3 separate regions of the Homo sapiens genome follow, and all the other regions are linked to region 1. Evidence: fine-mapped expression QTL. A gene starts in region 1. Each other region holds a variant in brackets. All regions are shown on one strand. Distances are between the middles of the regions. Region 1 holds the start of RBM44 (RNA binding motif protein 44). Region 2 overlaps LRRFIP1 (LRR binding FLII interacting protein 1). Region 3 overlaps LRRFIP1 (LRR binding FLII interacting protein 1).

The links. PIP is the estimated chance that this variant, and not a neighbour inherited with it, causes the effect.
Region 2: its variant is the best candidate, but not a certain one, in a credible set for the expression of RBM44 in sensory neurons (Schwartzentruber 2018, PIP 0.89).
Region 3: its variant is the best candidate, but not a certain one, in a credible set for the expression of RBM44 in subcutaneous fat (FUSION, PIP 0.57).

What each region holds. Positions count from the first base shown.
Region 1 is chr2:237,793,320-237,804,228 of GRCh38, forward strand. RBM44 (RNA binding motif protein 44) reads left to right here and starts at 5,460. Exons shown (of 16, transcript NM_001080504.3): 1 at 5,460-5,542.
Region 2 is chr2:237,760,751-237,771,659 of GRCh38, forward strand. LRRFIP1 (LRR binding FLII interacting protein 1) reads left to right here. Exons shown (of 24, transcript NM_001137550.2): 20 at 9,193-9,242. Among named protein-coding and RNA genes, the nearest start is that of RBM44, 33 kb to the right of the region's middle. RefSeq lists a silencer at 1,679-1,891. The variant C/T (reference allele first, on the strand shown) is at 7,329.
Region 3 is chr2:237,772,848-237,783,756 of GRCh38, forward strand. It overlaps LRRFIP1 (LRR binding FLII interacting protein 1), which reads left to right. Exons shown (of 24, transcript NM_001137550.2): 22 at 19-98; 23 at 1,511-1,615; 24 at 6,575-8,796. The coding sequence ends at 6,685. Among named protein-coding and RNA genes, the nearest start is that of RBM44, 20 kb to the right of the region's middle. The variant G/T (reference allele first, on the strand shown) is at 3,111.

The sequences.
Region 1 (10,909 bases):
ACTAGGATATGTGATCAATATTCAGAAATGAATAACTTTCCTATATATCAAAACTTACCAGTTAGATTTAGAATATCTAACTAAAGATTAGTTCATTAGGATCTCATAATCACAAACAAAAACCACCCAAAAGACTGGGTACGGTGGCTCATGCCTGTAATCCCAGCACTTTGGAAGGCTGAGGCAGGCAGATCACGAGGTCAGGAGATGGAGACCATCCTGGCTAACACAGTGAAACCCCATTTCTACTAAAAATACAAAAAATTAGCCGGGCGTGGTGGTGGGCACCTGTAGTCCCAGCTACTTGGGAGGCTGAACCTGGGAGGCGGAGCTTGCAGTGAGCCGAGATTGTGCCACTGCACTCCAGCCTGGGGGACAGAGTAAGACTCTGTCTCAAAAAAAAAAAAAAAAACCCCACCCAAAAAAAGCCTCCCACACAAATTGAAGCAATAATAATAATCCTAAGAAATAGAAGAACCTACATTAGGAAATCTATACATTCTGCTGAGATACAAGACACGAAAAACTGTAGAAAGATGTATGGTAAGAATAAATATCATAAAGATATAACTTTCACGTTTATAGATTTAATACATTTCTTATTTTTATTTTATTTTATTTTATTTTTTTGAGATGAGTCTCGCTCTGTCGCCCAGGCAGGCTGGAGTGCAGTGGTGCGATCTCGGCTTACTGCAAGTTCCACCTCCTGGGTTCACGTCATTCTCCTGCCTCAGCCTCCTGAGTAGCTGGGACTACAGGTGCCCGCCACCACGCCCGGCTAATTTTTTGTATTTTTAGTAGAGACGGGGTTTCACCGTGTTAGCCAGGATGGTCTTGATCTTTTGACCTCATGATCCACCTGCCTTGGCCTCCCAAAGTGCTGGGATTACAGGCGTGAGCCACTGCACCCCGCCAGATTTAATACATTTCTTATGAGAACCCCTTTGAGATTTTTGGGGAGGTAATCTCACAAAATTATTATTTTTTTTTCTTTCTTTTTTTTAAGAAAAGAAAGATCTCACTCGCTCAGGCTGGAGTGCAGTGGCATGTACTGCACTACACGGAGCTCACTGCAGCCTCAAACTCCTGGCCTCAAGCAGCCCTCCTGTCTCATCCTCCAAAAGTGTTGGGATTACAGTGAGCCACCATGCCTGGCCAACAACAAAATTATTCTAATATTCACTTGGAAGTTTTAAAAAAACCAACATTGCAACTAGACTAGATGATTTTGATAAAACAACAGTTGAGGGGGCCTCTGCCAGGTATTTTCAGTGTTACAAAGGTGCAAGGATAGGCCCCTGCAATGGGGCGACCCAGCCTTGCTCAAAAGGGCCCAGCTACTCTGCTCTGCCTTATTTTCTGCATTCCCTGAGGATTCCCAGGGTGTGGCTTCCATGCTATTGAGACTGCTCTACAAACACGCCGCCCTTTTCTGCATCCTGTCTATTCCACACGTGTTAGCCCCCACTAAGTTGTGTGGTATCAGTTATACTGTACGTTCTTCAAGAACTGCTGTAAGCTTTTCATTCCATGGCCTGCCTAATGCAGAGCAAGACCTCAGTAGGTGTTTGCGGAATAAAAAATTTTAACGGCTCCTGAATAGAGAGGTTAAAAATGTAGAAAGGCATCACAGTCCATGTGGGAGAGTAGCTCCATGGTTTCTCTCTATAGATAGCTCCCCGAAAACACCCACAGTGAGGCTCTGTGAGAAACGGGATTATAGGAGATTTCTATTTTCTTTTTCACCCTTTCCTGCATTTTCTACATTAAACACATGTGACTTTAATAACATTAAATATTTCAAAGTTATAAGCAAAAAAAAGTGTAAAAAATCAAATCATAAAAGGCACAAATCAAAGTTATTGTGTGGCTGGGCATGGTGGCTTACGCTTGTAATCCCAGCACTTTGGGAGGCCAAAGCGGGCAGATCACTTGAGGTCAGGAGTTCGAGACTAGCCTGGCCAACATGGCAAAACCCCATCTCTAAAAAATGGTAGCTGGGTGCGGTAGTGCAAAACTGTAATCCCAGCTACTCGGGAGGCTGAGGCAGGAGAATGGCTTGAACCCAGGAGACGGAGGTTGCAGTGAGCCGAGATCGTGCCACTGCACTCCAGCCTGGGTGACAGAGTGAGACCATGTCTAAAAACAAAAACAAAAACAACAGAAAATACTATTGTACGAATATGTTTATTCTGAACTTGAGCTGGAGTAAGCATCTCTAATATCACTGAAAATAAATGACAAAGAGACGGATGGATTTCTTTTTTTTTTTTTTTTGAGACGGAGTCTCGCTCTGTCGCCCAGGCTGGAGTGCAGTGGCACGGTCTCGGCTCACTGCAAGCTCCGCCTCCCGAGTTCACGCCATTCTCCTGCCTCAGCCTCCCGAGTAGCTGGGATTACAGGCGCCCGCCACCACGCCCGGCTAATTTTTTGTATTTTTTAGTAGAGACGGGGTTTCACCATGTTAGCCAGGATGCTCTCAATCTCCTGACCTCGTGACCCACCCGCCTCAGCCTCCCAAAGTGCTGGGATTACAGGCGTGAGCCACCCCGCCCAGCCAAGAGACTGATGGATTTCATAAAAATGTAAAATTTCACATCAAAACAATATAATCCCCAAATCAATTACGTAAGTCCAAACGTGGCAGAGCTGCCTGGCAGAAAAGGCAGAACCACTAGCTCCATACACAGACACAGGAAACTCTGACCAAGAAGAGCAAGGGTCCCATGCCCTAGGGCCAATGGGGAGTATCTGGAGACAGTGTCAAAAAAAACTCAAAGAGGCCAGGCGCGGTGGCTCAAGCCAGTAATCCCAGCACTTTGGGAGGCCGAAGCGGGTGGATCACTTGAGGTCAGGAGTTCGAGACCAGCCTGGCCAACATGGTGGAACCCCCATCTCCACTAAAAATACAAAAATTAGCTGAGCGTGGTGGCAGGCACCTGTAATCCCAGCTACTGGAAGGCTGAGGCAGGAGAATCGCTTGAACTGGGGAGGTGGAGGCTGCATTGATCCGAGATTGTGCCACTGCACTCCAGCCTGGGCAACAGAACAAGGCTGTCTCGAAAACAAAACAAAACAAAACAAAACACCTCAAAGGGCCCAGAGGAAGGCAAAACAAGGACACTGGATCCCACAGTTAAACAAAAACAGCTGAGGTCACTTAAGTGGGAATGTTTCTTCCCCTTGCCGTAGCAGGAGGCTTGGTGTGTCTCATGCAAACAGCCCATTTGCCCTTCAACCCGCCTCCCTGCCAACAACCGGCAGCCCCTCCTGCCACCTGCTCAGTGGCTTGCCTGTAAGCACAGCATCACTGTCCGGCACAGCTTACCTTTTCTGTAGCCTGGTGACACATGTGATGTCTGTGCTCAGCCCATCCACTCATAACACAACATTTCATCTCTATTCCCTGAATCCCAATAATCCTCCCTAAGGATGGCATGATCACTGTCTTCGATGGTTTAAAAGGTTGATAAATGAAAGATTTGACTCTTTCTGTGTTGTACCCACCCACAGGGTGGAGAGGAGACTAACAGTGAAATGAGCATTTGGCAAATGGCTGTTCAGAGAGGAATTTCTCAAAATTCTAACTGTGGTGGAGCAGTCAAAGGAGAAACGCCAAGGGTCTAGAGTAGAACGTGGTTTCCAGCTGTCTTGACATCAGGGCTGCTGGCCCACAGACACACTTCCAGAGCCACCCCTTCCAGGGTCACCATGGCCCAGTCCTGCTCCAGATGCCATCTGCCCAGCAGCCCAGGGGAGAGTGTCCAGCCTTCTAATGTGAGCCTCAATCTGAACCCCTTTCTATAACAGAGGCCAGACCTCATAATCTCATCAGCAGCTCTGGCCTGCTGCTGCCGTGGCCGCCCTCTCCAGCCACTGGCGTTAACTTCCAATAACATAGGGACTTCTAAATGAAATCCACTGTAAAAGGACAGGCCATATCACTTTAAAAGACACTTGAAAGCACTTTTGGTAATGGCAAGATTTGCGATAAGTGTATTACATTATCCCAAGATCCATGCTCACGGTCCACTGTCCACCACTGCACCCTCAGCCCCTGGCCCCTGGCAGGCCAATAGCAATCTGCAGAATGAATGAATGAATGAATGAATGAAGTGCATTTCAGAGACTGCAGCCTCATTTGAGGGGATAATTTGGGGGTAGGTGCAGTTTTAGAGCCCCTCCTCTATCTGCCACCTATCCAAAGTCCTCCGTGGCCCAACAATCAAGTGCATGTTTAGACTAATAAGCAAATGAAGCCACCTGCAGCTCTATCCTGTCCCCACCCCTTCAGGACTGTGTCATTTTATACAGGTTTAAATTCCCTATCAAGGATAAGACTAGGCACAAAACATGGGGGGCAGGGGAGGGGATGCAAAAACTCAGTAATCTTTTAATGCAATCTTTTAAAAAATCGAAATTAATGCAAAAAATCCATAATAAAATATTCAAATTTAATTTAATTTAATTTATTTATTTTGAGACGGAGTCTTGCTCTGTCATCATCCAGGCTGGAGTGCAACAGGGTGATCTCAGCTCACTGCAACCTCCGCCTCCTGGATCCAAGCGACTCTCCTGCCTCAGCCTCCCGAGTAGCTGGGATCACAGGCGTCCACGACCACACCTGCCCGGCTATTTTTTGTGTTTTTAGTAGAGACGAGGTTTCGCCATGTTGGCCAGGCTGGTTTCGAACTCCTGACCTCAGGTGATCCACCTGCCTTGGCCTCCTAAACTGCTGGGATTACAGGCGTGAGCCACCGCGCCCAGCCCAGAATATTCAAATTTTAAATAAAGACAGGACCAGTAACAATGTACCCTGTGGAGCCATTTTAAGAGTCTGAGGCGAAAGGAAAAAATAGGACTGAATTTTTTCATTACTTTTGACTTTTTTTAGAGACTGCATTAAAATATTATTTATCTTGATTGCTATTTTGGCAGCCTCTGAAATCCTGTGCTCATGACAAATGCCTCACTGGCCTCACCCTAGTCGCGGCCCGACCCTGCTAACGGTATTTCTAGAAGATGGGCAGAGGACAAGCCAAACCCCGGGAGGGACCACGCGGCCTGGGAAACAGTTCGGCAAGGAGGCCGGGCCCCTGTCCCGCCTCTGAGGGCGGAGGACTCGGCCTGCACCGGACCCAAGCGAGGGGCAGTCTGGCCTCTGCTGGCAGAAGCAGCGCTTCCAAGTATTTTCATATGGTGACTTTGCAGAGCTGCGCGGTCCAGACGAGGGTTTCAGGCTGCAAAGCGGGAAAGTCTTGGGGGCCGCTCTGCGCTCCAAGACAGACGCCCACAATCTCTTCTACGTCGTGCAACATTCAAGCAGGCGGCCTCCTTCCCGCGCTTTCGCGCCCACAGGCTGGGCCAATCACAGTGCCGCACTTTTCATACTGCCCGACAGGCGGTGGGCGGGCCGCTGGTGACTGTTACCCAACAGGCGCCGCGGCTGCTCCGGTGGCGCCACTGACTCGGAGGCGGCTGCGGAGAGCGGGGCGCTGGCCCGTGGAGGCGGCAGCGGCGGCGGCTTTCTAGCGGATCCGAGGTGCGACGGACAGAGACGCGGGGCGGCAGGTCGGGCGGCGAAGCCGGCGAGGGCGAGGCCATGGGCTTGAGCGGTCGGGGTTGGCGAACCCCGCGTGTGGCCGGTCCCGGCGGCGAGGCCCGTCCCGCTGAAGCACGCGGGGACTCCGAACGGCGGTGTAGGCGAGGCCAGCGAGGCGGGCGGGGGACTGGCGCGTTCCTTGGGCGGCACTGGAGTTCCGGCGCCCTCATAGCGGGCGCCGACACCGCAAAAGTCGTTCTCGAACGAAGTCGCGGGGCCGGTCTCCCAAACTTGGTTATGTCCCCGGGGAAAGCTAGAAATTCGCACATATGCTTCTTCTTGCCGTGGAGACTGATGGAGCCTCTGCTGCGGGGCGGGGACTCTAGCGAGAGGGGGACGTGAAGTTCGTTCCGTACTCAGGCGTGTGTGCCCCTGACCGACGCGTAGGACGCCCTGGAGGACGGCGCCAGCTCCTGACCTAGTGTGAGGTGCCCGGACGGTTTCCCTAAGAAGCGCGTATTTAAGATGAGATCTGAAGTTGAGCGTGAACTCAAGGTGGGGTAGGGGGTGGGCAGGCGAGAGAACGCACAGGGCCTGACTTTTTGCATTTTTTTAGTAGAGACGGGGTTTCAACGTGTTAGCCGGGATGGTCTCGATCTCGGTCTCTATCTCCTGACCTCGTGATCATCCCGCCTCAGCCTTCCAGAGTGCTGGGATTACAGGCGTGAGCCACCGCGCCCGGCCAGGGCCTGACTTTTTAAGGAAATGGAAAGGAGGGTGTATCTGGAAGACACCAAGTGCCAAGGCTAACACAGAGCCCGGACCGTTGTAGGGTTTTACAGGACTTATTCAGATTTTAATCTGTCTGAAAACAGTGACAGTCCGTTGCTGAGTTTTAAGCAGGAGCGTAACTGATTCGATAAGCATTTTAGAAAGATTATTCTGGCCAGATGTGAGGTGATTGTCTGCATAGCTGTGAGAGTCAGGAGTTAAAATTGACAAGACCTCAGGGATAAGGGAGGTGTCAAGGGCGAGTCCTGTGGTTTCTGGCGATACCATTCCCTGGAGTTTCGTGCACTGGAGGAAATAGTTCGGTAAGTGAGAACTCAAAGAAAATAATAAAAATGGGCATGTACCTAGGAGTGGAATTGCTGGATCATGTGGTTGTCTTGTGTTTAACTTTCTGAGGAAGTGCCAGACTTCTCCAGAGTGGCTGCACCATGTTACATTCCCATCGGCAATGGATGAAGGTTCTGATTTCTCCATGACCTGCTCAACACTGTTGTTACTGTTATTGTTATTGTCATCCTAGTGGGTGTGAAGTGATATCTTTTGGTTTTGATTTGCATTTCCTTCATGACTCTTGATAAATTGAGCATATTTTCATGTGTTTATTGGCCATTTGTATATCCTCTTTGTCAAGTCATTTGCTCATTCTTAATATTGGGTTGTTTGCCTTTTTATTGTTCAGTTGTAAGAGTTTTTTCTATATTCTAGATAATAGACCTCTATCGCATACATGATCTGCAAGTACTTCCGTTATACTAAAATTTTCTCTTTGGCAAACGTTTTTAACTTTGGGTGTCTTCATATTTAAGAATGAAGCTTGCAGCACACTGCAGATTTCATTAAATGCAGATTTGAGTGTAGAATCAGATGTGAATGAGAATCCAGCTTGAGATAGTGTTGCTCTTCTCACCAATTTTTTGAAAATATGTTTTTAATTTAAAATTTTACTTAAGTAACGAATGTATTTTCTATGAATAAATTAATAAATATTTGAAAATGTTGCTTTAATTTCTAATATGGTAAGTATTGATGGATATTACCCAAATAAAAAAAAATACTCCTTGGGACTCTCAATCCTTTTTTTTTTTTTTTTGAGGCGGAGTTTCACTCTTGTTTCCCAGGCTCGAGTGCAATGGCATGATCTCGGCTCACTGCAACCTCCGCCTCCCAGGTTCAAGTGATTCTCCTGGCTCAGCCTCCTGAGTAGCTGGGATTACAGGCACCCACTACCACGCCCACTCTATTTTTAGTAGAGACGGGTTTTCACCGTGTTGGCCAGGCTAGTCTCAAACTCCTGACCTCAAGTAATCCACCCACCTCGGCCTCCCAAAGTGTTGGGATTACAGGTGTGAGCTACTGCGCCCAGCTGGGGTTCTCAATACTTTTTAAGAATATGAAGAGCGGGCTGGGTGCAGTGGTTTATGCCTGTAATCCCAACACTTTGAAAGGCTGAGGTAGGTGGATCCCTTGGGCTAGGGGACCATCCTGGGCAGCATGGTGAAGCCCTGTCTCTACAAAAAAGTTATCCAGGCATGGTGGTGCATGCCTATAGTTCAGCCATTTGGGAGGCTGAGGTGGGAGGATCACCTGAACCCAGGGACGTTGAGACTGCTGTGAGCTGTGTTGCTACCATAGCACTCCAGCCTCCAGCCTGGGCAACAGCGTGAGACCCTGACTTAAATATATACACACAATATTTTGAACAATCAAATGTATCAAATATATATGTATTTGAATTATCTTGGCCCGCTGCAACCTCCATCTCCTGGGCTCAAGTGATCCTCCCACTTCAGCTTCCCAAGTAGCTGGGAACACAGGCTCACACCACCATGCCCAACTAATTTCTTGTATTTTTGTTAGAAACAGGGGTTTCACCATGTTGCCTAGGCTGGTCTGGAACTCCTGAGCTCAAGTGAGCCACCTGCCTCGGCCTCCTAAAGTGCTGGGATTACAGTTGTGAGCCACCGCACCTGGCCAGACCAGTTCATTTTTATACATAATAACTCTAGTTATCTTATAATCTAAGAAGAAGGAATGACTCTTAACTTGGAGCCATTCCATATTTGTCCTCTTAAATTGGGATGCTCTATGCCCTTCTCTGCTTCTTCTTAGCCTGGCTAGCCCCTACTTGACCATCATTTACTTTTTTGATAAGTTTTTCCTTACCTTTATTAATGCAACTGTGCTATACAATTATTGTCTACTTAACTGTCTTATTTAACCCCAATTGTCTTATTTAACTTTGTGAATCCCAAAGTAGGTACAGGTTATATTTTTCTTGGTGAGAATTTTAGTTTTTAATTGCTTTTTTTCCTTTTTTCTATCAAGGATTTGAACATAAAATTAATTGCTTTTTAAAAACAACTAGCAGTTTGAAAAACTCCAAATATATTTTTGAGCATGTTACATTTTATCCTTTCAGTCAAAATCAATACTAAATGAGTCCTACCCCCAATGGCTAACTCTTACTCATCATTCAGATCTGAGGTTAAGTAACTCTCTGAAAAGCCTTCACTAATCCTTAGACTAGGTTAAGTCTTGTATGTTTCCCATACCACCTTGTGTTTCTCAAAATATCCAGATTGTAGGAATTACTTAGGGCAGGGGTTCCCAACCCCCAGCCTGAGCTCTGCTTCCTGTCAGATCAGCAGCAGCATTAGATTCTCATAGGAACTCAAACCCTGTTGTGAACTGTGCATGTGAGGGATCTAGGTTTCGTGCTACCTATGAGAATCTAACTAATGCCTGATGATCTGAGGTGGAACAGTTTCAGCTTGAAGCCACTACCCTACCTCCAATCCTCTGGTCCGTGGAAAAATTATCTTCCACAAAACCGGTGTCTGGTACCAAAAAGGTTGTGGACTGTTGTCCTCGAGTATTGTTTCTGGGCCCCAAATTAGGCTGTTGAATCTATATTTTTAATGAGCGCCCTAAGTGATTCTTATATCAGGTAAGTTTGGGAAAACATACTCTAAATTTATAGAAGATTTATGTGCATCCATCCCCCTTTTGGAAATTGTATGCCTGTTGTGCTTCATAGAGCCAGTGACTGATCACCTCTCTGTCCTCAACACTTAACATATAACTTAGAAAACAGGCTCAGTCATTACTGAATAATATATTAAAGAGTGATTCTCCAAAGAAAGGTATTCGTCTCTGAAACTGGAAATGTAATTGCTTGGTAATAGGGTAGACATGTATTTAACACCATTAGAAATTGCCCGGTTTCCAAATGGTTTTAACAATTTGTATTCCCTCAAGCAATGTATAAGAATTCTAGTTTGTCCACATCCTCACCAATATCTGGTGTTAGCACTCTTTTAAAAGCCATTTTGGCCAGGTGCACTGGCTCATGCCTGTAATCCCAGCACTTTGGGAGGCCGAGGCGGGTGGATCACTTGAGGTCAGGAGTTCAAGACCAACCTGGCCAACATGGTGAAACCCCATCTGTACTAAAAATACAAAAATTAGCTGTGTGTGGTGGTGTGCACCTGTAGTGCCAGCTACAAAGGAGGCTGAGGCAGGAGAATCACTTTGACCTGGGAGGTAGGGGTTGCAGTGAGCCAAGATCACACCACTGCACTCCAGCCTGGGCGACAGAGCGAGACACACACACACACACAGTCTCTCTGTCTCTGGGTGACAGAGCGAGACACACACACACACACATACTCTCTCTCTCACACACACACACATACTTTCTCTCTCACTCACACACACACACACAAATTTTAAGCCATTCTAATGAATGTGAAGTGGTACCGTGGTTGTTTAAATTTGCATTTCCCTGATGACTAATGATGTTGAGCATGTTTTCATACCTATAAGCAATTTAAAAAATCTATTTGTACAAGTTATTTATGTAATCTGAATAAGCGTCTCCTTTTGGATATATGGATTGTGAATACTTTATTCCAGTCTTTGGCTTGTGTTTCCATTTTTTAAGTAATGTCTTTTGATGAGGAAAAGTTTCTTAATTTTGCTGAATCCCAATCAACAACTTTTAAATCAACACCTTTTGTGTTCTAAGAAATCTTTGCCTATTCCAAAGTCATGAATATATTGTTGTGTTTTGAGAAACATTATAAATTTGGTTTTCACATTTAAAAATATGATTCATCTCACTTTTATTGTGGTGTGAGGTGTGGGTCCAGGCAATTTTTCCCTCTAGGTAAAAATCTAGATAGTAGAAATATACTTGTGCCAGTACCATTTATTGAATATGCCTTAGACCTTTTTTTTTTTTCTTTTTTTTGAGACAGAGTCTTGCTTTGTCACCCAGGCTGGGGTACAGTGGCGCAATCTCAGCTGACTGCAACCTCTGGGGTTCTGCCTCAGCCTCCCAAGTAGGTGGGACTACAAGCGTGTGCCACCATGCCCAGCTAATTTTTGTATTTTTAGTAGAGACAGGGTTTCACCATGTTGGCCAGGCTGGTCTCAAACTCCTGACCTCAGGCGATCCACCCTCCTCGGCCTCCCAAAGAGCTGGGATTATAGGCGTGCGCCACCACGCCTGACCAATACCACATTTTCTTTACCTGGTCTACTATTGATGGGCACCTGGGTTGATTCTATGTC
Region 2 (10,909 bases), 33 kb before region 1:
GCAGGCGGCCGTGGTAGTGGGTGTGGCGGTGCTGAGAGTCTGAGTATGCCCACCTTTGTCAGAGGGGATCCTCCTTTGTATGCCACGTGTTTGCTTCTGAAAGAATATAAAACTGGGGAATCCAGTAGATCAGAGGAATATTTTATACCATTTTCAATGATCTGATTTGTCATAATTTGTCATAAGAGTTGGCTTTGGGAGAAACCTTCAGATTCTGGCGTGCAGCCTGAAGTTGCAGCGTGCAAGTGAGGCCTCATCTGTCACTGGTCACCCTCTGCGTTCCAGTGTTTTACAAAGAGGCTGGAATAAGGTCAGGGTCCGTGACTTTTCATTTTAATGTAGAAGCTTTCATCTTATTTCTTTTTATTTATGGAAATGTAGACACCTCCAGGCCCCATCTTCTCAGGCCTCGCATTCCAGGGAGGTACCTCATTCATTATCTTTATGACTATTAAAGAAACACAGCTCTTTTCAATTGTGTAAAAAAAGTTGTGGCCTAGTGCAGTGGCTCACACTTCTAATCCCAGCGCTGCGGGTGGCCAAGGCTGGAGGATCACTTAAGACCAGGAATTCCAGGCCAGCCTGGCAACCTAGCAAGATTCCGTCTCTAGATAGGTATGTAGTATCTATATACCGTTGTTGAGAAAAGATAAATTAATCAATTTCCATCATACCTTTATATGAGCTACCCGAACAGCTAGGAATCTGATTACGCTGCTCTTACTCAAATACACATTTTATAAATCTTTGATAACCATTGTGAAATGTTGTAAGAACCAGAAATGTCAGTTTTGAAAGTGGCCTTCAAATGACTTTTGATCACATATTCCTTCAGCAAAGAATTGTAGGATCCAATATGTATGTTTATTTTAAATCTACATATGTATACTATTTCATTAATATAAAATGTACGTTATAAAATATATGCAAAGATATGCAAAGAAGTTTTAGAGTAAAACTCTAAATAGAATTCCTAATATTTCCCCCATTTTCCCTGGGATATGGGCACCCCACCATGGAGATCACTGGGCTATAAAATTATCTAGCTTTGACTTTCAGTAACATAGTACCATATCTAATCTGCTGGGGTTTTGTTTGGAGAGTCCAAAAATTCCAAAACAGTTTGATGTTCTTTAGACGATGAATAATTTATCATTTAATTTAGTGGTCATCTTGATCTTGAACATTTGCCTCCTGCTGGTCCTCTCTCCCTAGTCCCTTAGGGAATGGAGCAGAGGTATCAGGGCATGGACACAGGGTGTTTTCTCAGGAAAACAATAGTTGAGTGGCAGAAGATAGATTTCCTTTCATATGAGCTATTTCAAAAGCATCTTCCTTGAGACTGACCTTGAGGCTGCATTTCTAAAAGTGCACTGAATATTCTTTTTAAAAATTACTTGAAAGCTGCTTTTAGGGCTGTGTGACATGGAGTGCAGTTTGACAGCTGCAAAAGTACAAGTTGTCAAGTTGTTCATTGAGAAGTGAGAGTGGGGAATTGAACCTTCAGTCTGTTCCTAAACCCATCATTGTGGATTGTTTGGCTGCCTGATCCAGAGTTCTTTCTATTTGTTGAAACTTAACGTCACCTTTAAAAATCTGTCCACACAAGATGGCACCAGCAGCCACTCTGGCCTTTGATGTGGTGGCAGTGGCCCTCACTGACCCAAAATTTACTAATGCAACTGCTGCTTTGCCGCACAGAACTGGCAAAGGCTTGTTTCTCATGACTCTTTGATGACTCTGTCTTTAGGAATAGGGGTGGGTGGGATTTGGAACGTGTGTTTACATTCTAATGTAGATTATGTGGCCGCCACATCATGGGGTCCCTTCAATTTTCTCAATGGTCTTTTAGGAAGAGCCAGTGAAGTGGAGGTGAAAAATGAAATCGTGGCGAATGTGGGGAAAAGAGAAATCTTGCACAATACTGAGAAAGAACAACACACAGAGGACACAGTGAAGGACTGTGTGGACATAGAGGTATTCCCTGCTGGTGAGAATACCGAGGACCAGAAATCCTCTGAAGACACTGCCCCATTCCTAGGAACCTTAGCAGGTGCTACCTATGAGGAACAGGTTCAAAGCCAAATTCTTGAGAGCAGTTCTCTCCCTGAAAACACAGTACAGGTTGAGTCAAATGAGGTCATGGGTGCACCAGATGACAGGACCAGAACTCCCCTTGAGCCATCCAACTGTTGGAGTGACTTAGATGGTGGGAACCACACAGAGAATGTGGGAGAGGCAGCAGTGACTCAGGTTGAAGAGCAGGCAGGCACAGTGGCCTCGTGTCCTTTAGGGCATAGTGATGACACAGTTTATCATGATGACAAATGTATGGTAGAGGTCCCCCAAGAGTTAGAGACAAGCACAGGGCATAGTTTAGAGAAAGAATTCACCAACCAGGAAGCAGCTGAGCCCAAGGAGGTTCCAGCGCACAGTACAGAAGTAGGTAGGGATCACAACGAAGAAGAGGGTGAAGAAACAGGATTAAGGGACGAGAAACCAATCAAGACAGAAGTTCCTGGTTCTCCAGCAGGAACTGAGGGCAACTGTCAGGAAGCGACAGGTCCAAGTACAGTAGACACTCAAAATGAACCCTTAGATATGAAAGAGCCCGATGAAGAAAAGAGTGACCAACAGGGAGAGGCATTGGACTCATCGCAGAAGAAGACAAAGAACAAGAAAAAGAAAAACAAGAAGAAAAAATCCCCAGTACCCGTAGAAACCCTTAAAGATGTTAAAAAAGAGTTAACGTATCAGAACACAGATTTAAGTGAAATTAAGGAAGAAGAGCAGGTAAAGTCTACTGACAGAAAGTCAGCAGTGGAAGCCCAAAACGAGGTGACTGAAAATCCAAAACAGAAAATTGCAGCAGAAAGCAGTGAAAATGTTGATTGTCCGGAGAATCCTAAAATTAAGTTGGATGGAAAACTTGACCAAGAAGGTGATGATGTACAAACAGCAGCTGAGGAGGTACTAGCTGATGGAGACACATTAGATTTTGAGGATGACACCGTTCAATCATCAGGCCCGAGGGCTGGTGGTGAAGAATTAGATGAAGGTGTTGCAAAAGATAATGCTAAAATAGATGGTGCCACTCAAAGCAGTCCTGCAGAACCAAAGAGCGAAGACGCAGATCGCTGCACCCTGCCCGAACATGAAAGTCCCTCACAGGACATTAGTGATGCCTGTGAAGCAGAAAGTACAGAGAGGTGTGAGATGTCAGAACATCCAAGTCAGACCGTCAGGAAAGCTTTAGACAGCAATAGCCTAGAGAACGATGACTTGTCGGCACCAGGAAGAGAGCCAGGGCACTTCAATCCAGAAAGCAGAGAAGATACCAGAGGAGGGAATGAGAAGGGCAAAAGCAAAGAAGACTGTACCATGTCCTAAGCTGAGGCAGGCGGCAGGCGCGGTGCACAGGAAGTCTCAGTGTGAAGGGGTCTTTTCTCTCCACTGCCAATGTAAGTAGAATGTTCTAAATTCATAGAGAGGCACTGTATGACAATTACCAGGTGCTCTACTGCTTTAAGTTATAGACTGTTACTTGTAGATTTCCATGTAATCATTGAGGTTATCACCCAGATTAGAAAGACATATTTGTTATCAGTGTACGTTCTAATTGAGAGCATTCCAGTAGTATCAAACAATAATGTCTACTGTTTATAGTCCACTTAATAAAAATAGAGGCATTTACTATTTGCCTTAGGCTGATAGGAATGTGGGTTTTCTTGACCAAATATATCAGCATCTAATTGAAATGACCAAATAGCATTCTTAGACTTCTGTATTATGAATATAATTGATATTTAAATTAATGTCTTGTTCACATATGTGTACTTTCATATTTGATTTTAAAATGTACATTATAACCTGTATGGTATTTTATTTAAAGGAGATAAACAGCCAAATAGCAAATAGGTCACTGAATGATAAGATTTGCACCTTAGAACAATAATCATTTTAAGGATAACAAGTAAATGTCTGAAAGCATGAGGGGCTTTATTTGCCTTTACCTCATATGAGTCTTTGATCTTGAACCGATACTTTTGGATCTCATTGTTGATATACCTGAATTTACTTTGTAAGAGATTTTAACTTCACTTCATGCTGATGATGTATCAAATTCATTTTATAGAAAGATTTAAAGTTTTTTTCTGGAAGTGATATATGTCAAATTACATTTCCTACTGCAGTATTTGAGCAGGGACAGTCATTTTTTAAATGTTTTTGGCCGGGCGTGGTGGCTCATGCCTGTAATCTCAGTACATTGGGAGGCCAAGGCAGGTGGATCACCTGAGGTCAAGAGTTCGAGGCCAGCCTGGCCAACATGGTGAAACCCTGTCTCTACTAAAAATACAAAAAATTGGCCGGGCGTGATGGTGGGCGCCTGTAATCCCAGCCACTCCAGAGGCTGAGGCAGGAGAATCGCTTGAACCTGCGAGGCAGAGATTGCAGTGAGCCAAGATCAAGCCATTGTACTCCAGCCTGGACAACAAGAGCGAAACTCTGTCTAAAAAAAAAAAAAAAAACACACACACACACAACACAATGTTTTCACGCCTGTAAACCTAGCACATTGGGAAGCCAAGGTGGGAGGATTGCTTGAGGCCAGGAGTTCAAGGCTGCAGTGAGCTATGATTGCACACTGTACTCTAGCCTGGGAGACAGAGTGAGACACTGTCTCTAAAAAAAAAAAAAAAAAAAAAAAAAGTTTTTGAACCTTAAAATACTTTGTTTGAATTTCTAATCATCATTCAAAAGAGCAGTAAAAAATGGTTACTTGTTCTTGTACAAGCTACTAATTAGACTATAGTAGGATATTTTAAAGAGCTGAATCACTTTTGGTATTTTGGTATAAATATTTTCATTTGTTATGTCCCAGTATATTCTTACTGGAAAATTCTTGTTTTGATCTGCCTGAAGAAAATATCTGTTTTCTATATAAAAAAATTTTTTAAAATAATTGTAAAGTTAGATTTAAAATTGTAAAATATAAAATCACAAAGGAATGTACCTTATGAATGTTGTTGACATTTTATGAAATTATGTGGATTCATATTACTGTTACAAGATAGAATTGAATGCAAAAAGACCAAAACCTCAATAAAATTTGAGGAAAACGTGTTATTATGTAATTGAAATAAAAACATTTTATAATTGTGCAAGCCTGTGGTTCCACTCTTTGGGCTGCTTGAAGTCTGAGTCTGACTACTGTTGTATGTAATACCACCTTTGAGTAATATCTGCTTGGGGGTTGCTGATTCCTATTGGGGTTCCGTGGAAGACCCACGCCTGATGCCCTCCCTCAGTAAGGAATGCACTTCCCTCCTGGCATCGAGCCTGGGGCTAGCATGGGCATTACTGGGAGAACTGAGACGATTGTCACGCACCATCCCCTGTGATCTGTGGTTCTGATGTGCAGCCTCAGCTGAAAACGGTCTTCACCTGTGGCTGTGCTTACCTGCGCCACTACTTACAGTGTTTTGAAGAGCAGGATGAAAACGGCAAAAACCTTGACTGTTTCTGCTCAAGTGTCCTGAAGTAGAGGATGGTGGGGATGATAAATGCTTGCTAGGAAATAAGTCCAAGGGCTCTATAGGACTTCACAGGGTTTTAGTTTATGTCTCTAACTTTAGCAAAGCTGCATTCCTATTGGAATGCATACTGGAAACAGCTCTCATTCCTACCTTTAAAGGGCTCTTGGAAAGCAGTGTGACAACCAAGGTCACTAAATGGTGAGATCATCAAGCCATTTTAAGTTCTTTCTCATGTTATTCACCAGCACCCTGCAGGACGTTGGGCACACATCACATCCCTCAGCTCAGCCATCCAGCCGTCTCAGTGATTCACCACTCATTTGCTTAATTAATAGACAGGTTTGATCACTTTGTACATGGAAGGCACTGTGCCAGTGAACAAGCAGTTGGACCCAGCCCTCCAGTAGGGAATGGACAGCTGAAAATCCATGAGCAAGAAAGAAGGAAAAAGAAAGAGTTCTGAGCAGCCAAACCATTTCTCGATGATTTCAGAGCCTTCATTCTGAGCATCAGTTATATGCTCTCCAGTGTAATGACTTTATAGCCAAGCACAGTAATTGATATTACTGTGAAGGCCCTTAACTTATCAAGAAATGGTTGAGGCCGGGCACATTGGCTCATGCCTATAATCCCAGCACGTGGGAGGCCGAGGCAGGCAGATCACTTAAGCCCAGGAGTTCAAGCCCAGCCTGGGCAACATGATGAAAGCCCATCTCTACAAAAAAAATATACAAACAATTAGCCAGGCATGGTGGCATGTGCATGTAGTCCCATGTAGTCCCAGCTACTTAGGAGGCAGAAACACCTGAGCCTGGGAGGTCGAGGCTGCAGTGAATTGTGCTCACACCACTGCATTCCAGCCTGGGTGATGGAGTGAAACCCTGTCTCAAAAAAAAAGAAAGAAAAGAAAAAGAAAGTTGACTTAGCTATACTCCATATAAGAAGGTATAGAAATATATAGAGCAATTTAGAAAGATTATAGTGTCAAAAGATTCAAACTCAGAAAAGAATTGAAAGGTTGCCTGCCAGCCATATCCCCAGACGAACCTAGACCACTGGGGTTTCACTATCATACAGAATAGAGAAAAACATTGGTTACTGACACCTGAAATCAAAAAGCTTGGATATTTTTCAGTCCCAAACCAGAACATAGCTCCCGTATATAAATGTAAATCTTCCTTCAAAAGTATAATTAAGTATAATTATGGGTGTATGTCAAAAATATAGAGGAAGATGGATTTTTACTTATAGGTTGTTATACAAAGTTGGGACAGCAATCAAATTTTTAAACAGTTTTCAAGAATGTATGACCTTAAAAGAAATGTGTGACCCTGATCACTTTCCATATTTGTAATTAACCGGAGACCTAATGGTCTGAACACTTAAGTTTCCACTATCACTAGGACCCTGAATGCTAATTCTGGGGAGTTTAGATGGTTTGGGGCTCCTGTTTTCTATTCATAGACTCCCTTTCTGGGAGACCACCCCCCAACCCTGTACAGCGTACCACCCGTGGCCACCAGCCAAGGGAACACAACAGTAAGATTTGTTCTAAACGTCTGGGCCCCTAAGGGAAAGGGAGGGGTGTTTGTGTGTGCATGTATTATGTTCAGAATATGTACTTGTTCAGTGTGATAGTTGTACGTGGAGAAAACTTTGTCTTTCAAGAGGAAAATCCTTTTGTTCTTTTTGTCCCTATCTACTGCCTCTCTTAAATATTTTTCAACATGTGAATGGCTGGTGGCTGATACAGGGAAAAATTTCCCAGCTATACAGACACTATAAGTCTAC[C/T]GGTGATGTGCCACTATTTATTCAACAATATAGACTTGGTGGTTTTTAACGCTACGAAAACTAGTACTCTTTATTTTCTTCATGTCAAATTATTTTGCTTCATTTCTTTTTCCATTTTCTTCAAACTCTTTCGTTCTTGTTTTCTTGTCCAAGTCTCCTTTAGAATTTCTCTTCCTGAAAAGTTTCTTCTCTATTTATAATGTTCTCACTATACAACTAAATGTCAGATTACCTATATCAATTTTGCTTGCACTCTTATTACATTTTAACACTTATTTTCTAGTGCTTATGTAGAATATTTGAAGTTTTCTAGAAGAAAACAATAACAATTGTACAATAGATACTTGAGCTTCAAGATCACATTCTGGTGTATTCAGTGTTTCTTATGACGCCTGTAGTTTTTGTATGTAGGAGTATTAAAACATGTAAGAAAATGAAAAGTGATATTGGGCAAAAGAATCAGGTTCATAACTGCAAAAATGTTTTGTTTCAATGTTGGGTGGGTTATGGGGGGGAGCGAGTAAAACATCTGTCAGAAGTAATTTGACTGTAAATTAAAATAGAACTCAAAAGGATGATAAATTTAATTTATATTGTGCTTAACATTATCTGGTGTTTACTGTGCCTTTCAAAACAACTTAGGATCTTTGGAAAACATAATTAGAGAAAAATGTAACTTGGATTAGCATGTGGCTAGATGATTTTTTAAATGAAAATGAAGATGCATTTTATATGAATTATTTTCTTTTCACATGGCTAATCAAGGTTAGTTTTTCATTCTATGAAGAATCTGGAGGTAGGCCGCATGACAGCAGTGTCCTAGTGAGCTAAGAGCTTTGAGTCAGGGTCTGACTCGGGCGTGTGAGTTTGGATCTGGAAAAACAGCGGGTGCAGTGTTTAGGGGAGTGTTCCCGTGGCTGGGCCGCAAGGCCTGAAGAAACTTGCTTAGTGGTTCTGGGCCTCTGAGCCTCATCTATAGAAGGAGGCTATGATGAAGCCTACCCATAGGGCTTCTGGGGCTGAAACGAGCTAATGATGTCGAAGCTGCTAGAACTGTACCTGTGTCAGAGCGAGTGTGCAGCATACGTTATCATCACTGTCATCACTCCAGCATTCTGACTGTGCCTTTAAACTAGTGTGGGATTTTGCCCAAACCTCTAAACCCTCCCCTAGCCGTGGTTTCCCCCGCAGTCTGAAGACTCTAATACTTGACACTCGTTCAGAGAGATGTTTGGGGAATTTATAGACACTTAACATTTATGCATCCTTATATATCGGGTCCAGGAGGAATTACAGACACTTAAACCATTACTGCCTTCTTCCTCAAAAGAATAACAGCTTTGGTAACTGGGTTAGCAGAGGTGTTAGTGGACTTAGGGTTGTAAACAGATACTCATGGCACTGACATCGATGAGTCTATGAGGGAAATTAGAAAGATAAATACATCTGGGATGTAAACTCGGAAAGGCGAGGCTGTTCAAAATGTTGGTGCTATTGAATTGTGATTCTCGGTGTTTGTACATTGCTAATAATGTTAAACCATGAAGCCTGTGAGATCTTGTGTTGCAGCGTGGTTTGGCCCTAGCGTTCTTGCATGCTAACCTAAGGTAGAAGATTAGCAGCCTGTTTGCATGCAGCCGGATGCTGCCCCTGACGTGAAGCATGTTCTGGGAGGTTGACCCAACCTCCTTTGGCTGTGGCCTCATTCACCCCGTCCTGTCTGTGGCCTCATTCACCGTGGTACGTGTATAACTACTTCCATCATTCATTTCACTAACCTGAACGATCATTCTTCAGTTTAGCAATGTGCTGAAAGGCGCGGCACGCGGATTCACCTAAACCTGTGTCTTTGTGATTTCTTTAGATATTAGGTTGAAAAAGCTGGTTGATGAACGGGAATGCTTATTGGAACAGGTAACAATCTTTTTATTACTTTACCGGTTCATGAACAGGGCACCTGAAACCACCTGCCCATCCTTCCTTCTTGCTTACTCAGAAAACCCCTAAGTTAATCATGTCTGAAAGTCTTTATCAAGCCAACTGGTGTTCTTAAGATTGCTATCCAAATAGAACATCAAAGTTAATATTTTCATCCAAAGAGAACATCCTGAGTCATATGAGGTTTAATAAGGATGTCTCAAAGACCCAAAGCCATGGAATTGAATTTGGTACATTTTACTGAATTGCTGCTTAAAATAAATATAAATGTTGATTATTAATAATATTAATGATTAACTGTTGAGAGACAAGAGCATTACTGAGTCATTCCAAATAGCACTTCTCTTGTCCATATGGGTTGTTTGTCCATAAAAGTCAGTTTTGTACTCTTGGTGATCAGCACCCCTCTCTCACAGGTGTTTCTTTGTTACAGCTAAACAAAGTTGTTTTAACCATGTTTATCTTCATTGCTCTCTCCTACCTCAAGAAGTAGCAGGCCAGGTGCAGTGGCTCACACCTGTAATCGTAGCACTTTGGGAGGCCAAGGCGGGCGGATCACTTGAGGTCAGGAGTTCAAGAGCAGTCTGCCAACATGGTGAAACCCCGTCTCTACTAAAAATACAAAAATTAGCCGGGTGTGATGGTGCGCGCCCGTAATCCCAGCTACTGGGGAGGCTGAGGCAGGAGAATCGCTTGAACCCGGGAAGCAGAGGTTGCAGTGAGCCGAGATCGCACCACTGCACTCCAACCTGGGTGACAGAGCAAGACTCCATCTCAAAAACAAAGAAACACTGAACAGTTATCCTATCTGATCTTTTTATATGCAGGATAGTGATTAAATCACTCTACAACCACTTTCCTCTAATTTCTCCTCATAAGCCTAATCAAATGTATTTGCCTTACTTCCTACCATTCTGTTGAAGATTCTCCGAAAATTGGAGAAAGCACTAAATATGGTAGGAAGATTCTCTTGAAGTTCCTGTGATCTTTTGAAACTGCATTCCTGAGTTCTATCCTTACTTCCTTAAAGCAGCATGCACTTTTGGTTTGTTGTTAATCAGGGGTCTCCTGTGCTTGGTGTGTGGGGTAGGAAGGCAGGTGATCACCTGCAACAATTCTTCACAGATTGGAAGTTAAACATGAAAAGCCCCCGGAGACCCCACGAACTAGATGCCAGAAAGTTCTGCAGTCATTGACTGTTAACTGCAATTCCAACTATACGGTCAGCCCTCCATATCCATGGGTTCCATATCCGTGGATTCAACCAACATGGATTGAAATATTCCAAAAAAAAAAAAAAAAAACCCATAAATTCCGCAAAGTTCCAAAAAGCATAGCTTGAATTTGCCCTGCACGGAGTCCTGCACTGAATCCACACAAATGAAGTGAGTTGTAGGCGTTGGGTATTAAAAGGAATCTAGAGGTGATTTAAAGTGTACCGGAGAATGCAGGTAGGTTTCTGCAAATACTGCACCATTTTATATCAGGGACTTGAGCATCCACAGATTTGGTGTCTGAGGGGTCCTGGAACCAATCCCCCCCCCCCCCCGCCCAGATACCAAGGGACAACTGGACATGTTTCTGTCTTGCTTAGAGAGGGGAAAGCTAGCTAGAGACCAACTCCCTGAAAGCTGGCAAACCGC
Region 3 (10,909 bases), 20 kb before region 1:
TTCTCTTTCAACCTTTAGGGGATGCCAACAGACAGATCAGCGACCTCAAATTTAAACTTGCAAAATCTGAGCAAGAGATAACTGCATTAGAACAAAATGTACGTGTAAGCAACAACGGGCAGAACTGATGATTGACTGGAGTTTTACTTGCTAGAAATAGCCCTGAAAGGCTGAGGACCAGAAAAAGCCGAGATTTTTAGAACCAAGAAATGTCCTAAGAGGGATAAGTTAAGACAGCAAGTCTTTCCATCCGTTTCTTACAGAGCAAGCAGGAAGGAAAGAATTCTTAGAATTTAAGTTGTTACAGTAGATACTAATCCTTTATCAACAACAGTTAGTTGTAGAAAATAGCTAATGTGGCTTGGGAGTGTTTTAAAATTTTGTTCTTTAAAATTAATTTAGTTAATTGGCCGAGCGCAGTGGCTCACACCTGTAATCCCAGCACTTTGGGAGGCTGAGATGGGTGGATCACTGAAGGTCGAGAGTTCGAGACCAGCCTGGCCAACATAGTGAAACCCCGTCTCTACTAAAAATACAAAAATTAGCCGGGCATGGTGGCAGGCGCCTGTAATCTCAGCTACTCAGGAGGCTGAAGCAGGAGAATCGCTTGAACCAGGGTGGCAGAGGTTGCAGTGAGCCGAGATCACGCCACTGCACTCCAGCCTGGGCAACAGCGAGACTCTGTCTCAAAAATAAAATAAAATAAATAAATAAATAATGTAGCTAATTAAAAAAACACATCATACTGGGACGTCCCTCTTGCCTGGGCTTTTAGCCTTTCTCTTGCAGCGAGGCCCGCCCTCCCTGGTGTCTAGACATGGGGCACTCCTGCCTCTAGCACCCTGGGCCCTAGGGCAATTTGTGTTCTAGCCAGAAAGAGAGAAAAAAAACAGGACTGTTTCCCCCTCCATTGTGGGTGTACTTGGCTGGAACTTTTTAGAATGTTTATAGAAACAAAAATGAGAACAGCACAGGTAGAGACGATGTGTGCTTTTGATTGCGGCAGAGTGAAGGTGTCCAGCAGGCCTTCGCTGCTGCCGTCTTTCATCTCAGAACCTTGGCTGGGGAATGCCATGCCGAAGCCGCCTCCTTTCACTCCTCGCCCTGTCCTTTCCTCCTCCCACCCCCGCCACCCCAGGAGAGATTAGACTGGAGCTGAGGTCGTGGCGGAACACGTCCCTTACCAGCACCATTCTGCCTGTTCCAACAGAACAGCCCCACGCAGCGGGAGAAGAAGCAGGCAGCAAGGTGCCAGCACTGCAGAAACCACCCTGGTGGACGGGGTCAGAGGAAATGGGTCCCCATCATGTCAGCACAGGGTCGCCCAGAAATAGTAACCAAGAATAGCTTGCTTGGCTCAAACCCACACCATAGTCCAAAATGTTATAAGTATTTACATGGTGTATTCTCCCATTTTATTAAATCACACTCTTTGATCTCAAAGTAAAGAAACTGAAGAAAGAAAACAGGCTTATCAATTTATACATATGGTTTTTTTTCTACCTTTTAGGTAATAAGGTTAGAGAGTCAAGTATCACGTTACAAATCAGCGGCTGAAAATGCAGAAAAAATAGAAGATGAACTTAAGGCAGAAAAACGGAAACTCCAAAGAGAGGTAAATTTCCTAGGCAATTTCTAGGAAGAGAATGGCTGCCAGTATTTCTCTAGTGGGGACGGTACAGAGAGGATTTACTACTGTGACATCTGCCCCTGGGCTGGTCATTGTCAGATCATCCCACACCACTCTGCAGTGCCGGTGTCTTAATAAAGGAAGGCATGGCGCAGCCAGTTAGGGCTTAGGGCTAGACCCTTGCTGGCATCAACTAGTTCATCTGTCAGTTTTGAGCATCTCCTATAGGTCTTGTCCGTAAACGTCAAGAGAATGAGATAAAGGAGTAGCCAGGCCTCTTATGCTCCGAATATTTTTTGTGTCATGCAGAATGAGCCCAGGTGGAGGACCAGGAGCCCATGGGCCTGCTGTGGCCAAGAGCTGGGTGTGGCACCAGGGCCAGGCCACAGCTGTCTCAGGTCACCCTATGGAGAGTGCCCTTGAGAAGCCGAGCTGCTGTTACTCCACCTGCTGGTCACACTCCCAAATTACCATGCTTGCCAATTAAAACACATACTTTACCTTACTGAAGACACTTGGCAAAGTTGTTTGTTCAACAAATATTTACAGCACCCGTTGCATGCCGGGCACGGGTTCAGGTGCTGGAGATGCAGCTGTGACCTTACAGACAGGAGTCTCCGCCTCCATAGAGCCTGTGCTCTGGAAGAGGGAGGTCCATAAAAGTGACCACAGGCAGGAGAGGGGCTGGGGTGCGGAATGGCCCAGGCCAGGGCAGTTCTAGGTAGGTGGCCAAGGAAGACTTTCCTTCTTGTGGCATATAAGGACAGGCCTGAACAGCCCAGGGAGTGAGCCAGGCAGAACTGGGAGAAAGCCTTCCGCGCAAAGGATCAGCACGTGCAGGGGAGCTCGGGGCAAGGCACTGCCTTTGTCAAGGAACAGTCAGAGCGGTGGAGGCCAAGTGAGCAGGGGGTGAGGGGGTGGAGGGAGCAGTGAGAGCACCTCAGCCCGTGAGGCAGGGCCCTGGAGGCCATGGACAGGACTTGGGATCCTCCTGTGCATAAAGTGGGAGCTACTGCAGGGTTTTGAGCAAAGGAGTGGCTTATGTTGATTTATGTTTCAATAGGATCACTCGGGCCGGGCGCGGTGGCTCACGCCTATAATCCCAGCACTTTGGGAGGCCAAGGTGAGCAAATCGCTTGAGCTCAGGAGTTCAAGACCAGTGTGGGCAACATAGTGAAAACCTGTCTTTACATAAAGTGCAAAAAAACTAATTAGCCGGGTGCGGTGGCCCGTGCCTGTAGTCTCAGCTACTTGGGAGGCTGAGGCAGGAGGATTGCTTGAGCCTGGGAGGTGAAAGCTGCTTTGACACATGAGCGTGCCACTGCACTCCAGCATGGGGCGACAGAGTGAGACCGTTTTTCATTAAAAAAAAGGAAAGAATCACTCATTTTATATTTAAACTGTAGGAAAGGGACTGTGGAGGAGAAACCAAAGATGCCATTTCTCTCCTCTTTATTTTATTTATTTATTTATTTTATTT[G/T]ATTTTATTTTATTTATTTATTTTTTTGAGACGGAGTCTGACTCTTGCCCAGGCTGGAGTGCAATGGCGCCATCTCGGCTCACTGCAACCTCCACCTCCCAGGTTCAAGCCTCCCACCTCAGCCTCTCGAGTAGCCGGAAATACAGGCACCCACCATCATGCCTGGCTAATTTTTGTGTTTTTGTAGAGACGGGGTTTCTCCATGTTGGCCAGGCTGGTCTTGAACTCCTGACCTCAGGTGATCCTCCTGCCTTGGCCTCCCAAAGTGCTGGGATTACAGGCATGAGCCACCATGCCTGGCCCATTTAACCTTCTAGCCTACTTTTGCTATGGTCAGAGAACATGGTCCCTGTTATACCTGGTCTTTGAAATTTGTCAATACTTGCTTAATGGCCTGATACATGATTCACTTTTGTAAATGTCTCCAATGTGGTTAAGAAGAATGTGTAGTCTCTGATTTATGGATGCAAAATTCTGTATACTTCCACTGATCAAACTTGTGAAGTGTGCATTCAGATCTGATTTCTTTTGTCTGCTTAAATTCTCAGTAGCTGATAGAGATTTGTCAAGCTCTTCCAAAAGATGATGGTGGATTTATCTCATTCTCCCTATTTCTCCTATATATGTTGAGGCTATTGATACTAGATGTTTAAAATTCTGATATCTTCTTGATGAGTTAAACCTTTTATCACTTTGTAGTGACCCTTTTGGTCCCTGCTGCTGTTGACCTTGTCGGGTATTCACGTGGCCGCATCAGCTTTCTTTTGGTTAGTGTTTGTCCACTTCTGATTTTTGCATCCCTTGGCTTCCAGTCTTCCGTGTGTTGTTATGCGTTAGATGATCTCCTTCAGATGCACATAGCTAGGTGGCGGTGGCTCTTAGTTGAATCTGGAATCTGTGGATCTTAATAGAGCCCTTAGTCCATTGTTATTGGTATATTTGGACTCGTTTTCACCATCTGACTGTGGATAACCATTTGTTCTGTCTTTTGTGTGTCATTTTTCTCTTGCCAAATTTAAATTTTATATTCAATTTCTATTCTTTTCAGTGATCACACATGGGGTATTTTTATTTAACTTAAAAAAAAATTAAAGTTGAACACTATCTTTACTCCCCTCCTATAAAATAGAAGGACTTTTGAGCACTTTAGCTTCACCCTCCTGCCTGGCATGCACACCCTCACACATATGTGTATATGTGTATATGTATATGTACACATGTACATCCACACATAAATACTTTTGAGCTTCATAAATCCCACTTATCAGATAATACTATTGTTGTGTTGTTGTTGCTGTTGTTTTATATTGCCCATGTTTGTTTGACATAACTACATATTGGCCATTTTATATGTCTGTCCTGCTAGTGTCTCAGACTGTACTAGAATCATTTTCCTCCTCACTGAAGTACATACTGTAGAAATTCTTTTAGAGCAGACTTCTTGGTGGTGAATTCCCTGTTTTTGTTTGTACATGTTTTCGTTTCATCCTTGTTCTTGGACAGTAGTATTCAGGGACATGCAATTCTGTGTGGTGGTCATTTTCCTCAATGATTATAGCGATTATGCCACCATCTGCTGGCTTCCATTGAGCTGTTGAGAAAGTTGTTGTTTTAACGGTCGGTCCTTTGTAGGGACCTTTTTTTTTCTTCTCTAGTTTCTTTCAGGTTCTGTTTGTCTTTGATTTTCTACAGTTTTACTGTTAGATGTAGTTTATTGGAATCTTTCTGCTTGAGATATATAGTGTTTCTTGGATCTGTGAAGTCTTTTTAAAAATTGATTTTGGAAAATATTCAACCATTAACTCCTTAAATAATTCCTCTTTTTTAGTCTCTCCACTTTCCCCTCTGGAACTCTAATCAGAGGATGTTAGAGATTCTCATTGTCTCCACATTTTTTAACCATCTCTCTTTCATGTTTTCTATCTCCTTACCTCTCTCTATTGGATAATGCCTAAAGTTTTTGCAAAGATTTTCCAGTTCACCATTTTTTTTAAAAAGTGTCTTCATTGTTGATAGTTTCTTGCTGCATGTTCATGTATGTCCTCTTTTTAAATTGTATTCTTATTCTTTAAATATTTCATACACAGCTGTTTGGTTTTCTGTATCTGACAACTGAAACATGCTCAGTCTTTGGGGGTCTAATTCTGTCATTTATTGCTTCTGTTGACTCTCACTCAAATGGTTTGTCACCTTAGTGTTTTGTGAGCTTATGCTTGATTTTAATTTGTAGGAATAACTCCAGGCTTAACTTGTGGAAACTTCCTGCAAAAAGGGCTTGCTTCTGCCTCTGCTAGTGAGGTGGGGTCGGGACTTCTGTCCCAGGACCCAAACAAGCTTCCTTGAGTGTTTTGGGTCGAAAGCAGAGCCATAGACCCTGTTCTTGTCACCCCTCCAAAACCACGTTCTCCCAGCTTAGGGCACCCCACTCTGCCCTGCTGCCTGTGGGTCCAGATGATGCCCTGCTAATGTGGCTTCTGCAGCTCGTCTTCTGCCTGACTCTCAGGCTCCATGGCCCTGGCTCCCAGGTGTGGCCGTCTTGGCCTCAGGCATTCCTGCCTTGGACTCTGGCTGCCAGGGCTGTGGGGACCACCTTCGCCATGCAGTCCAGGCTCAGCTCTTGTTGTTTGTGTTTGTTTACCTCATGCCTCACTTACCTTTTGTGAAACCATCAGGATCCCCACTGGGCGTGTGGCTCACGCCTGTAATCCCAGCACTTTGGGAGGCCGAGGTGGGTAGATCACCTGAGGTCAGGAGTTCAAGACCAGCCTGACCAACATGGTGAAACCCCATCTCTAATAAAATACAAAAAATTAGCCAGGTGTGGTGGTGTGCACCTGTAGTCTCAGCTACTCAGGAGGCTGAGACAAGAGAATTGTTTGAACCCAGAAGGCGGAGGTTGCAGTGAGCCAAGATCACACCGTTATACTCTGGCCTGGGTGACAGAGCGAGACTTTGTCTCAAAAAAAAAAACAAACAAAAAAAGAGGCCGAGCGTGGTGGCTCATGCCTGTAATCCCAGCACTTTGGGAGGCCAAGGCGGACAGATCACGAGGTCAGGAGATCGAGACCATCCTGGCCAACATGGCAAAACCCCGTCTCTACTAAAATACAAAAAATTAACTGAGGGTGGTGGCGCACACCTGTAGTCCCGGGAGGCTGAGGCAGGGGAATCGCTTGAACCCGTGAGGCGGAGCTTGCAGTGAGCCGAGATCACGCCACTGCACTCCAGCCTGGGCGACTGAGCGAGATTCCATCTCAAGAAAAAAAAAAGAAAACCATCAGGATCCCCAAGGGTGTTCCCTCTCTGGAGTCCAGTTGTTTCAGAGGAGGAAGGGCATCATGAGGGACCAGGGGCCAAGTTATCATTTTATTTTTCAGTAGGATTGGAATTTCGGTAACACAGAACCCTGTTATGTTTGGAGGAAACAAGTTCCTTAAAGCTCACTGCCTTTCCTCCGTTCCCAGCTCCGCTCTGCATTGGATAAAACAGAAGAGCTCGAGGTGAGCAACGGCCACTTAGTGAAGCGTCTGGAAAAAATGAAAGCAAATCGGAGTGCACTCTTGTCCCAGCAGTAAATTCCAGCTCTGATCAGGCAACTGGTTGGTGACTGGAGAGCATTGTTTCATAGGCTTTTCTCTGTCCTATCTGGGAGCGCTGCTTCTTCCCCTGCCTTCCGAGAGACGAAGACCGTGGCGAGCTTGGCGCTTAGGGGCTCCCGTGCCATGGCTCACCCCAGGGAGCCCCAGCAGCCACCAGGTGCCTCTGTCTGCAGACCCCTGGCCCGGGCTGGCGCCGACGCTCAGAACCTGCAGGTACTTCATAAGCACACAGGGGCCTCGAGGGAGCTCTGTGTCTGACCGCACAGCAGCCTCTGAATGCCGCTGGAAGTGATGATCAAAGTAAAGATTCAGTTGGGACTTGAGTTTTTTTTTTTTTTCATGTGTCTTGCTGAAGATTAAGGGGAAATGTTACAGTGTTGGGACTTCCTTTCATGGCAGAATCTACAATTTGAGCGACTTCAGTAGTATCTCTTAGTCTACGCTTTTCATACACAAAACACTGTGGAACCACAAGCCATTACCAAGCAAAACTCTTTCACTGGAAACAAGGGGGCAGTCTAGAAGTAAAAGTGACCTTAAGAAGACTCTTTACAGGCAACAAATGAAGCTTTTCTAAGGGATTTTTGCATCAGTTCAGTCATAAGAATACTTTTTTCCAGGGTAATTAGGCAATAGCTTCACTGAAAATGACAGCTTTTCATTGCATTATTTAATCCTTATATTTGGAATTGAAGTCGTTAACTTCTTTTAAAGAATGTACTATTAGAAAAATTAAAAATGAAATGTTGAGAGACTTCAGCAATGTGGTTCTAATTTTTTTCCACTGAGAAAGAAGATCTTTAATTTCATATTAATGGTTCTGTATATTTTGGGTCATCTTTTTATTTTTTAAGAATATCAAGTCAATTCATTTTTCTTTCCCTATTTAAAAAAAAAGGTGTTTTCACAGAATGAGTGCACTTAAAAAGTGAAGTGAAGGAGGAGGTAACAGTAGAGACGATGGCAATATCATCAAGGACAAAAGTAAAAACGTTTAGCTACCTGCTGATTTTTAGTGACTGTTCATATATGTTGTATTTCAAGTATGGCTGGTGAAGCCAGTCAGCTTTTCGGGACGTTAGCAAGTGGAAACTGAGTCAGTATCATCCAAAACCATATCTAGTCTTAACACATGGAGAATGCTGGAGTGAGGGTTGTGAGTTCAGGGTATATAATCAAGAAAACACTCCCAGCATAATGCTAGGGGTCACCAGTGTCCATCCCCCAGAACTGTATGGATCTAGGATATACACAGCTGCGTTGCATTAAGAAAGAGATGAAATCTCTATTAAAATACACAAGATTTTTGTATCTCCTTGTGCAGAGGATATTTGCCACTGCCCATTGGGAAGCAGACAAGTTATAGGGGGCTGGGGGCCAACACTGGCAAGTAGGAAACCACGGGTCGGACAGGTGAGCAAAATGTGCTGGCAGGTGGGCACCACTGGGAGACCCACACTGCACACCCGGGCACCGTATGAACAGGAAAGAGGAAGGAAGCTGGACGAAGCCCCTCAGGGACCCTGTGCTGACCATGCTGGGCCCACCGGCAAAAGGGAGATATTCAGTTCCTTGTCTCATCCTTAAGGTTTCTTCCACAACATCTGAATACAAGCATGTTTAACTGGGAAAATGTCTATGTCATGCGTGAATAACACCAGCAGCAAACACTCACACATCACGCAGACACGGCCGGCAGCATGCTGACGCTTTTAGGTATTTTTCACTCATGCAATTTTCACATATTTTCACTCATTTCATTTGCACGGAAATTCTATGAGGTAGATGCTGTTATCAAATCCACATTACAGATGAGGGACCCAGGGTCCAGGAAGGTGAACTGGCAGAAGTCTCCCAGCTGGTAGAACAGGGCTGCAAGGCATCGATTCCCAGGTGTCTCACAGCCCTGAGAAGATGGCGTTTTCCCTATCAGTGGCTCTGAGGAAGTCAAGCCTTCAGTCTCTACCTCTCCCACCAATTCTTTTGGAAACAGCAAACCAATGTTACACACACTTCCTAATCCAGAGGAAGCTAGAACACGATTTTTAAATTTATTTAGTAAAATAAAACTTTTTTTGCAGATGTAACGAATGGAAATTGGTTGCTGGCTTCTTTCATCCCTGCAACCTAGCGTTTCTCAGCCTCAGCACGACGGTCGTCTGGAGCTGGGTCGTTCTTGGTGGCTGGGGTGGCTGTCCCCTGCACCGTGGGATGTTGAGCAGCAACACTGAACTCTACCAACTCATTGCCAGTAGACCCCACTCCCGGTCATGACACACAAAAACATCACCAGACATTGCCAAATGTCCACTGCGGGGGTGAGGGGCGTGTAAAAGCGCCTCCCATTGAGAACCACTGCTGTAACCTGAATTAGAAGATTTGGAAAAGAAATGGTTGAAAACCCAGACCAGGATCCCTGTTGTATGTTTCCTATGAATGATTTTCATTTTTAGAAATGAAATAACATCTAGGACATAGAGCAAAACACTCAAAACACATCATAAATGGATAACATAAATAGATAAAAATCCAATGCAGTTCAGAATTACAATCAAATGTTATTTTCTCTTGTGTTTTAGAATTCCTCATTTTCATAGTCAAAATATCAACTAAAGCATCAAAAGTTCCTGTTGATATTTTTGAAAATGTGTTACTACTTAGCAAATTTGGATTTCTGGTTTGTACAGTGCTGAGCCCTTGAGGAATACCAGAAGAATGCACACCTTAAGGAGGCTGTGGTTTTCAGGGAGAGAACAGCCATGCATGAGGATGGCCATAGCAGAAGGCGGAGGGGTGGGGAAGTGCCAGCTGTTAGCTATGTGGAGCCAGCCAGTTGCAAATTTTCAAACCGGCAGAAGCATCTGTTGTGTTTCACTAAATGACCCGAGCCAGATGTGGCCCACGTGTTCCCGAGCCTGCCTGAGTATCTGAAGGGGATAGAGCTGATGTCCACTGACCTGCCTGGCTCCCTGCACCTTCAGCCACATTTCGGAAGCACTTGCTACCCAGTGTTAAGGATGTGCGGAGGCTTAGAGGATTCCAGCTCTGTGGTCAGGGCCTTTTGCCCTTGTGTCCAGGAGCCTCCAGGGCTAGCTCCCATCACTCAAGGACTGGACAGTTGTCCCTGAACCCCAGCCCTGTACTTGCTGCCATGCCCCTCGATGCTGCTGCCTAACCACTTGCTAGTGTGTATCTCCATGTATGGCCAGCCCCCCACCCCTGCCAGTTCCCCCTTGCTTGCTTCTTTCCCCTCTCTGCCAGAATAGCTCTGATCACCACTTGTGGATGGCTCCTACCTGGTCCCCAGGTGCACTAAATGCTAAGCAGGTCCTGAGCTCCACTGGCCCTGAGTGAAGTTGCACTGTCTGTGGCTGGATTTGTCTCTTCCAATTGTCCATCCTCTTGGGTGGCATAGAAACAAGAACATCAGAGACTTGGGAAGAGAACTCTGAGCTAGAAATATCTGTTGGCTGGGTGCAGTGGCTCATCCCTGTAATCCCAGCACTTCGGGAGGCCAAGGCGGCTGGATCACGAGGTCAGGAGATTGAGACCATCCTGGCTAACACGGTGAAACCCCGTCTCTACTAAAAATAGAAAAACAAACTTAGCCGGGAGTGGTGGCAGGCGCCTGTAGTCCCAGCTACTCGGGAGGCTGAGGCAGAGAATGGCATGAACCTGGGAGGCAGAGCTTGCAGTGAACCGAGATCACACCACTGCACTCCAGCCTGGGCAACAGAGCGATACTCCATCTCAAAAAAAAGAAAGAAAATATTTGAAGTTTATGTTAATACTTCCTAAATCCCAGGGGGCTGCTGTATTAGTCTGTTTTCACACTGCTGATAAAGACATACCTGAGACTGGGCAATTTACAAAAGAAAGAGGTTTATTGGAAGGTGAAAGGCATGTTTCACATGGTGGCAGACAAGAGAGCTTGTGCAGGGAAACTCCCTTTTTTTTCTTTTATACTTTAAGTTTTAGGGTACATGTGCACAATGTGCTGGTTAGTTACATATGTATACATGTGCCATGTTGGTGTGCTGCACCCATTAACTCATCATTTAACATTAGGTATATCTCCTAATGCTATCCCTCCCCCCTCCCCCGACCCCACAACAGGCCCCAGTGTGTGATGTTCCCCTTCCTGTGTCCATGTGTTCTCATTGCTCAATTCCCACTTATCAGTGAGAACATGCGGTGTTT